Regions from separate parts of the Homo sapiens genome. Here all the other regions are linked to region 2. Evidence: fine-mapped expression QTL. A gene starts in region 2. Each other region holds a variant in brackets. All regions are shown on one strand. Distances are between the middles of the regions. Region 1 overlaps CASKIN1 (CASK interacting protein 1). Region 2 holds the start of TRAF7 (TNF receptor associated factor 7). Region 3 overlaps TSC2 (TSC complex subunit 2).

Evidence for each region.
Region 1: its variant is fine-mapped to the expression of TRAF7 in whole blood (TOPMed, PIP 0.99).
Region 3: its variant is fine-mapped to the expression of TRAF7 in whole blood (TOPMed, PIP above 0.99).

Annotation. Positions count from the first base shown.
Region 1 is chr16:2,192,930-2,195,764 of GRCh38, reverse strand. All of the region lies in intron 1 of CASKIN1 (CASK interacting protein 1), which reads left to right. Among named protein-coding and RNA genes, the nearest start is that of CASKIN1, 2.3 kb to the left of the region's middle. The variant C/T (reference allele first, on the strand shown) is at 1,571.
Region 2 is chr16:2,154,141-2,156,975 of GRCh38, reverse strand. It overlaps TRAF7 (TNF receptor associated factor 7), which reads right to left and starts at 1,194. Exons shown (of 21, transcript NM_032271.3): 1 at 1,118-1,194. SNHG19 (small nucleolar RNA host gene 19) reads left to right here and starts at 1,618. Exons shown (of 2, transcript NR_132114.1): 1 at 1,618-1,833; 2 at 2,054-2,194. It overlaps SNORD60 (small nucleolar RNA, C/D box 60), which reads left to right and starts at 1,871; the gene lies at 1,871-1,953. RAB26 (RAB26, member RAS oncogene family) reads right to left here. Exons shown (of 9, transcript NM_014353.5): 9 at 2,811-2,835. RefSeq lists enhancers at 1-4, 5-586, 510-649, 660-759, 1,630-1,829 and a silencer at 1,060-1,149.
Region 3 is chr16:2,079,361-2,081,860 of GRCh38, reverse strand. It overlaps TSC2 (TSC complex subunit 2), which reads right to left. Exons shown (of 42, transcript NM_000548.5): 28 at 2,433-2,500; 29 at 2,192-2,304; 30 at 1,484-1,696; 31 at 63-266. Among named protein-coding and RNA genes, the nearest start is that of MIR1225, 9.7 kb to the left of the region's middle. The variant G/A (reference allele first, on the strand shown) is at 1,150.

The sequences.
Region 1 (2,835 bases), 39 kb before region 2:
GCCCAGCCCAGGGCAGGCTGGACTCCAGGCAGGGCCGGCCTGGGCGCAAGGGCTTGGGGCCCTGCTCAGGCAGGCTCCAGCAGAGCCGGGTCTCCAGCTTCCCTGCTGGGAAAGGAGGCCATGAGGGAGTGGGGGACCACCACTGGCCATCCCCAGCTTGCCCTATGGCCGGCCCCAGGAAAGGGCTGGGAGCTTGGAGCCCTGGTCCCAGCACTCATCCTGGCTCAGCGCGTAGCCTCCCTGGGGGCCGCCGGAGATGGATGGATGGGCGTGTGGACCAGCCGCGTGTGCGGCTGCGCACGTATAGCCGTGTCAGTGTGTCAGGGCACCTGTGCGGGCACGGACAGGGCTCTGCAGGTCGGCACGTGGGGTCTGGGCGTCCTCCCTCCTCCCTCCACCCCCACAGACTGTAAGCCAGAGAGTCCCCCTCCCCTTCCTCCAGGGGGATGCCGAGAACTGGGACTGGCTTCTGGGAGATTGTTGGGGGCACCTAGGAGTCCCAGGAGGACCCCCTCCCCCGTACTTCACCAGCAGCCCATGACTGGCTAGCTCCTGTCCACTCTGTGCAGTAAGAGAGAGGGGGCACCGGTGCCTTGCAGGCTGGCCCCGAGCTGATTTCAGGTCCGGGGGCTCAGAAAGGGAGAGCTTGTGGGCAGAGGCAGCCTCAGCTGAGCCTGGAGAGCAGGTGTAGGGATTGAGGGAAGGCAAGGTAAAGGTTTCCACCTAGTGGCCGCATGACCTTGGACACAGACAACTCCAGCTCAGTGGACCTCAGTCTCCTCGTCTGTAGGATGGGATGTCAGCCTCACGGTGGGGTCCTAAGACCAGTGAGCCTGGGCACTTGCAGCCCAGGCATTCAGTAAGTGCTCAGTAAATGCCAGCAATGACCGCAGTCTTGGACGGCCCAGGGCCAGGGGCTGGGGAAGTGGGGGCTTCAGCTCTGGGGAGGTTCCTCCTCCCTTCTATTGTGGCCATTCTGGGGAGGTGTGGGGGCTTCCACTCTCACCTGGGTCTCTGCCTGTCTTGCCTGGCCTCTGGGACAGGAGAGACACCTGCCCTGGCCCCGGCTCCTGCTCTCTGACTCACAGGGGCGGGTGTAATAAATCAGAGGAGAAATCCCTCCATGAATTAGCTCCGTCGTCATGGCAACGCTGGCCTGCTTTGGAGTAAGATGTATTTTGATTCAGTAAAGTACAGCTGAGTTTGGGCCACGAGGTGGGGGGTGTCCAGCAGTATCCTCCAGGGCCCCGTGAGCCCAGGGCTGTCCCCATGAGCTTTGCTTCCATGGTCCCCTCTGGTTGCCCAGTCCCTTCCCTCCAGCCCCTGCTCCAGAGTCACCCCAGGCTCAGCCAGCCCCCGACTCGCCCTGCCCTGAAGGGAGCCTCCCGTGCCCGCACGCACACACTTAGCAGCTGTCCTTGAGGGGAAGAGGAGCCTGTTCTGGGGGAGATGCCGGTGCAGGGGCTGGCCTCCTGCTGGCCAGGAGGGACCCACTCTTCCCTCTGACCCGGACCCTATCCATGGAGGCCCCCTGTCCATGGAGGCAGGCCCAAGAATGCCGTGGAGGACA[C/T]CCCTGAGCACCGAGGGCCAGCTCCCCATCCCCCTCTCACCTTCTAATAGCCCACTAGTAGCTCCCTTCTAGCCTGGGATATGGACTGGACCCCAGAGGTGGGGACAGGCTCAGGATAGCAGTGAGAGGGCTGGTCGGGGGTAAGGCCTTTACTGTCATAGAGTCACAGGGCTTAGGGACCTCGTGGAGAGGGAGGGGGGCTCCTGGACTTTCATCCTGGCCCCGGCCCCCTCCAGCCATGCTCTGCTCCTGCTTCATCCAGAGAACCCGTTTCCAGGTGAAAACAGCCCCCAGCCCCAGGCCCTTCTCAGTTCTGGGACCTTCCTGGGTACCCACTGTCCCCCCACAGGAATGGGGGTTAGTGTGTCCCAAGACCTCAAGTTGCTGCCATCCAATTTCAGCCAGTTTCCCCCTTGAGGAGACCATAAGTGGGGAGAGGGACGAGATGGCTTTAGTAAGGCACCCCTCCTCACATGGGGGTGGTCCCCTTCCTGAGGGAGACACCCTCCCCCACTGGCAGATGTTACTTTCTGGGCTTTGACCTCCAGCCTCTCCGAGATTTCAGCCCCTGAAGGTGTGGCTGGGTGAGAAGGTGGTTTCCACACTGGCTGCCTCAGCTGTGGGAGGGAGGACAGGGCCTGGCTTGGACAGTCCTGGGGACATGCTGAGGGCTGTCCACCCTGGAGCTGGGAAGAGTGGGGGTCAGCGTTCTGTGGGGAGAACCTCCTGAGTGTGGTCCTGGCGGGGATGCACGGGACAGTGACACCTGCGCTCCCTTTAGCTAATGGCAAGGGATGGTGGTAGGCCCCACGACATAATTCCCAGGTCCCCATGCAAAATGTAAACGCAGGGCCCCTTGCTCAAAAATAAGAATTTCAGGCCGGGCATGGTGGCTCATGCCTGTCATCCCAGCACTTTGGGAGGCTGAGGCAGGCGGATCACCTGAGGTCGGGAGTTCGAGACCAGCCTGACCAACATGGAGAAACCCCGTCTCTACTAAAAATACAAAATTAGCCAGGAGTGGTGGTGCGTGCCTGTAATCCCAGCTACTCTGGAGGCTGAAGCAGAAGAATTGCTTGAACCCGGGAGGTGGAGGTTGTGGTGAGCCGAGATCGCACCATTGCACTCCAGCCTGGGCAACAAGAATGAAACTCCATCTCCAATAAAAAAAAAGAAAAAGAATTTCGAGATGGCGACAGGAGAGCATCCGCAGGCATGGGGTCCTTCTGAGCCAAGCACAGGCCGCACACCCATTAAGTCGCCTC
Region 2 (2,835 bases):
TCCAGACTCAACCCCAGCTGACCACTCTGGCCTGGCTCAAGACAACCGTATCTTGACAGCAGGACCCCAGTGGGGACTAGGAGACGATGGCCTAGCCTCCCTCTCTCCTGCTTCCCCAGTGAACTCTGAAGTCTGTGGTCCACACACAGTTAGAAAGCTCTTTACTGGACCTAGATCGGACCGCCTCTCCAGCGCTTCCTCAACCCCAAGTCATTTGCCAGCATAATAACCCCCCCGCCCCACCCCACCATGCACCCTGTGAGCCTGGTCCGGCCTCATCGACTTCACCTCTCCACTTGCCAGTGCTTGCTGGGGTGCGTCAGGCCCCTTCTCACCCCAGGCCTATGTACATCTGGCTCTTTCTACTTGGAATGCTCCTCCTGCATGTCCTGGGACTGGCTGCTTCTCCAACAGGCCTTTGGCTAACGGTAGCGCCGCCCCTACCCCCGGCCAGTACTCACTTTTTCAGCACCCTCTTTCTTTCTTTCACAGCACATACCGCTGCTCCCCATGATTTTAACTACCTATTGTCAATCCCACCACCCTGTCTGTCTAGATGGGGGATGGGGGGAGTTGTTCCGCAGGAGGCATTTGCCAATGCATGGAGACATTTGTTATCGCAATTGAGGAAGGGGTGGTGTTTACTGGTATCTAGCGGCCAGGAGCCAGGCAAGCTGTTCCACATCCTACAATGTACAGGGCAGCTCCTCGCAGCAAAAAGCGACCCGGGCCGCGTGGTCGATGGTGCGGAGGTTGGGGAACCCTGCAGCAGACGCCGAGCACAGGAGAACTGGGACCGTGTTCTCCGCGGTCTCCCGGCGCCCAGAACAGTGCCTGGCACCCGGGAGTCTCGGGGAATGCAGGAAGAAGGAATGAGTAAAGAACTGCGCGAGAACAGGACGGAGCGAGGGACGGACTACTGACTGGCGGACGGACAGCGACGCGGACCCCGACCCTGACCCCGACCCCGACCGTCTCAGCCCCGCCCCCCCCTCCCCGCCCCGGCCCGACCCCTCGCCTCGCCTCGCCTCGCCTCGATCTCCACGCGCCCGATCCCGCCCCACCGCGCGGTCCCGAGGCGCGAGCCCCGGGTCGGGCGCGCCGCGGGGACACTCACCCGCCCGCGGCCGCCCGGGAGCGGCAGCGCCGCCAGCCCGCTTCATGATGCCCCCTCGGCCGCCGGCCGGGAAAGGGACTAGACGCGCGAGCCGGAAGCGCCAGGCCGCTGCGCCCGCCGGGACGTGTAGTTCCCCGCCTCTCCGGGCCCGGACGGCTGCCTCACGCGCCGCACTTCCGAAACTACGACTTCCGGCGGCCTCGTCGTCGCGGGGCGGGAATGGCAGCTTCAGAATCACTCTATGTTGCAGATCGAAGTCTGATTGGCTTTGTTCATCCGTCACTCACCGTTAGGCTTCACGGACTCTGCATAAGGGAGGAGCTTCGGGTCTGGGTCTGAGAGACCGTCTCCAAAAGAAATGCCACGGTACGATTGGTGGAAACAACGCGGCAGGGAGCGGAGCGTACCAGCGGCGGGGGAAGGCGGGCACTTCCGCCAGGATAGCCCAATGACAGAGGTGGGACAGTTTCTATAAAAGCTTGAGCCTCGCCCGCCCCTGTCTTTTCGGGGTCGAGTCCGAGGGGGAAGAGGTTTGTTAATACGTTCGCCATGTGCTACGATCTTGGGACGAACTGAGCCACGAGCGTGGCTTTGAGGGCCGTCCGAACGCTGCAGGCCGGCCAGGTCCCTGGGCGTCCAGGCCTGGCCTACGCACCACTTTGTCCCTTAGCGTTTAAAGGTTTCTTCCCGAATCTCAGGCCCTCAGCTACCTGCAGGTAAGACTGGGCCGGGCTTGGGTTCCCTTATTCTCCCAGTCTGTGATGAATTGCTTTGACTTCTGACACCTCGTATGAAAACTGCACGTGCAGTCTGATTATTTAGCAAGACTGAGGCTTGAGGGTGCGCACTCCTGACGGGGAGCTGAGAGTGGAAACAGGTGTTGCCCGAAACGAAGGAGTGGGGACTTAATGTCTGTATTTTGGCGCTGACTTTCAGGTTTCGTCGCGAGCCGGCTGCAAGTTTTGAACCTAAGTAAACCTCAATCCGGAGGGCCTAGCGGTAAGGTGGGCGCTGTGTCTATTGAAGTGCTTAGCAATAAAGAAAGGTAGTGAGTTGATTCGGTTTTCTCTCAAGTGTCTTTATTTTCCTATTCTGGCACCCCAGAGGTCTGGCTGATCCACAGGCAATCTTGGAAAAGGGTACAGACATGAAAACGGAAGCTCGTTACCAGTGACTTTTCATCTCTTGGGATTGCCTTCTCCATTTCTGCCCGTGATTTTTTTTTTTTTTTTTTGAGACGGAGTTTTGCTCGTTTCCCAGGCGGGAGTGCGATGGCACAACCTCCACCTCAAGCGATTTTCCTGCCTGAGCCTCCCAAATGGCTGGAATTACAGGCGCCCACCACCACGCCCGGCTAATTTTGTATTTTTAGTAGAGACGGGGTTTCTCCGTGTTAGGCTGGTCTCAAACTCCTGACCTCAGGTGATCTGCCCACCTCAGCCTCCCAAAGTGCTGGGATCACAGGTGTGAGCCACCACGCCCAGTCAAATACTGTTTTTCATGCCTTTTGCCCCAGGGTGAGTCCAAAAAGGCTTTTGAGATTTGTGGAGGGAAGTTGACACCACCTAGGGTTCCCATGTGCCTCCTTAGGGAGGCAGCCATGGGCCATGGAGGAATGGTAGCCACACACCTGCTGAGGGTTCTGGGCCTTGCTGAGTCTCTCAAACTCCAGCATCCTGCTCTAGAAGTGGATTTTTTTCAACAGATGAGACAGACGC
Region 3 (2,500 bases), 75 kb after region 2:
GTCACCGGGAGCACCAGGCCAGTGGGAGCAGAGCCCGTGCCAAGGCCCGCCATGCCACTCACCTGTGTTGGAGCGAGGCAGAGGAGGGGGTTTGGCCGTGCTGGCTGCCGGCACCGACAGTGACTTGTACAGGGCTGTGTCCCGGTGCTCCTTGAAGCGCTCAGCCGCCATGAGGGCGTTAGACAGCTCCTGCAGGGGCATGTTGTTGATGTCCGAGGAGAAAGGGCTGAGCGGGTTCTCCAGGCTCATCAGCCAGCTGGTGTTCCCTGCGGAGGCGGCAGCACCTTTGGCCTGAGGCCAGTACCTCCCCTTACCCATCTCTGGCCCCCCAGGGGCCTCCTGGCCTGGGCCCTGGTTTTGCCCTCATGCTCCCTCCCACAATCCTCAGGACCACGATGTCGGAGCCAGCGCTGCTCTGACGGCCACCCACCCTGCTGCCCCGCTCAGCCCCTGCCTCGAGGCCAGGCTCCGCCAGGCACCTCAGAGCAGCGGCCTCCAGCCCACAGCCTCACAGTCCGGACCCAAGGCCTCCACGAGGGCTGGAACCCCTACTCTTTGCACCCCTCAGCCACGGCACACCCAGGCGCCCCTGGGCTCTGGGCCTCTGCAAAGGCCTCCCTCTGTCCCTGGGCTCTGGGCCTCTGCGGGGGCTCCCTCTGCCCCTGGGAACAGGCTGAGCTGTGCCCCCATGTTGGTATGCTTTAGTCCCAACCCCAGGAACTCAGAACGGGACTGTCTCTGGAGACTGGGTTTCAGAAAGCTAATTACGGCTAGCAAGGGACCAGAGCGGACCCTAAGCCATGACCGGTTTCCTCCCAAGAGGAGATTAACACGCAGACATCCAGGAAAGAGCCTGTGAGGACACAGGGAAAAAACCAACTGCATGCCAAGGATTGAGGCCTCTGAGGAGCACCTCCTGCCGAGGAGCACCTTGGTCTCGGACTTGCAGCCTCCAGGCGGGGAGGGCAACTCTCTGCCATGGAAGTCACTTGGTTCGCCACAGGCCCCTGCCCCACCTCAGCCACCTGGATCGCCCCTCACAGCTCACCTCTGGAGACTTACAAGTTACCCCCAAATGGCTGGGCGCGGTGGCTCACGCCTGTAATCCCAGCACTTTGGGAGGCCAAGGCGGGCGGATCACGAGGTCAG[G/A]AGATTGAGACCATCCTGGCTAACACAGTGAAACCCCATCTCTACTAGAAATACAAAAAAATTGGCCAGGCGTGGTGGCGGGCGCCTGTGGTCCCAGCTACTCGGGAGGCTGAGGCAGGAGAATGGCGTGAACCCGGGAGGTGGAGCTTGCAGTGAGCCGAGATTGCGCCACTGCGTTCCAGCGTGGGCCACAGAGCAAGACTCTGTCTCAAAAAAAAAACAAAAGTTACCCCCAAATATCCCAAGAGGGCCAAGTCTGCAATCGCCCCTGAGTGTCCACAGCTCTGTGGGTGACTGGCAGAAAGATGGCGCTCAGGCCAGCCCCGCCCAGTACCTGTGGGCCTCCGGACCAGGATCTCCGCCCAGCCCTGGGTCAGCAGGGGCACATAGGCCGCCAGGTTCGTCTTCTCCTGCACAGGAACCCGGGTGCCAGCTGAGGCCTTCTCAGGTTTCGCGGCTGGTGCAGTCCGTGGTCCTGGAGAAGTGGCACTGCCCAGGAACTGGGAGGCCGGCACGTCCAGGGCGCCAACTCGAAGACCATGGCCCCCTGAAGAAGAGGGCAGAGGACTGGTGACCACCACTTACCTGATGCAAAACCACCAGCCTCAAGCTGAATGCTCCCCCCGAGCCTGGCAAGCTAGTGCCACAGGCAGCCAGAGACGGTGGCAGCTCTGCCCTTGGGGCACGGCCCACCACAGTGCTGGCCTCAGTGAACCCAGGGCCACAGGGAGGGACCCAGAACCTGTCCTGCAGTCAGACCACGGCTCGCTGGAGCAGAGAAGGGCTCCAGGACTGAGCCGAGCTGAAAACCCGCAGGAAACACCAGCACCCAGAGCAGGCCCCTCTGCAGCAAGCGGGCCACACTCCACCACTCCACGGCTCTGGGGTGAGCTGTGGAAGGCTCACCCCAGAGTCAGGACGTGGGCCGGGCCTGAAGCCAGCCACCCCGGCCCCTGGGCTCGGGGCCTTCCTGAACACTGGGACCAGCAGCAACTGAGGGAGCCCCGGTGCCTGTGTGGAGGTGGCTGGGGCCAAGGCTCACCCGACATGGAACGGACCCGATCCCGGGCCCCACGGGACACCTGCTGCCCAGCCTGGGACTCCAGCTTGGCCGGCGCCTCCTTGGTCTGTCTCACATGCACCCCGGGGCTGGAGCTGAGAAGAGAATCCCACGCACAGGGTGGACTTAGTCCCCAGGCTGGTACGAGGGTGCCACGTGGGCCTGGGCTCGGGACAGCCGGTGTCGAGGCTGGCAGGCGCGGAGGAAAGGAAGGTGCAGTCACCTCGACTCCGGGCCGGACTGCAGCTCCCCCGAGTCCAGGCCTAGTAACGACCGGGTCCCGGTTCCCAC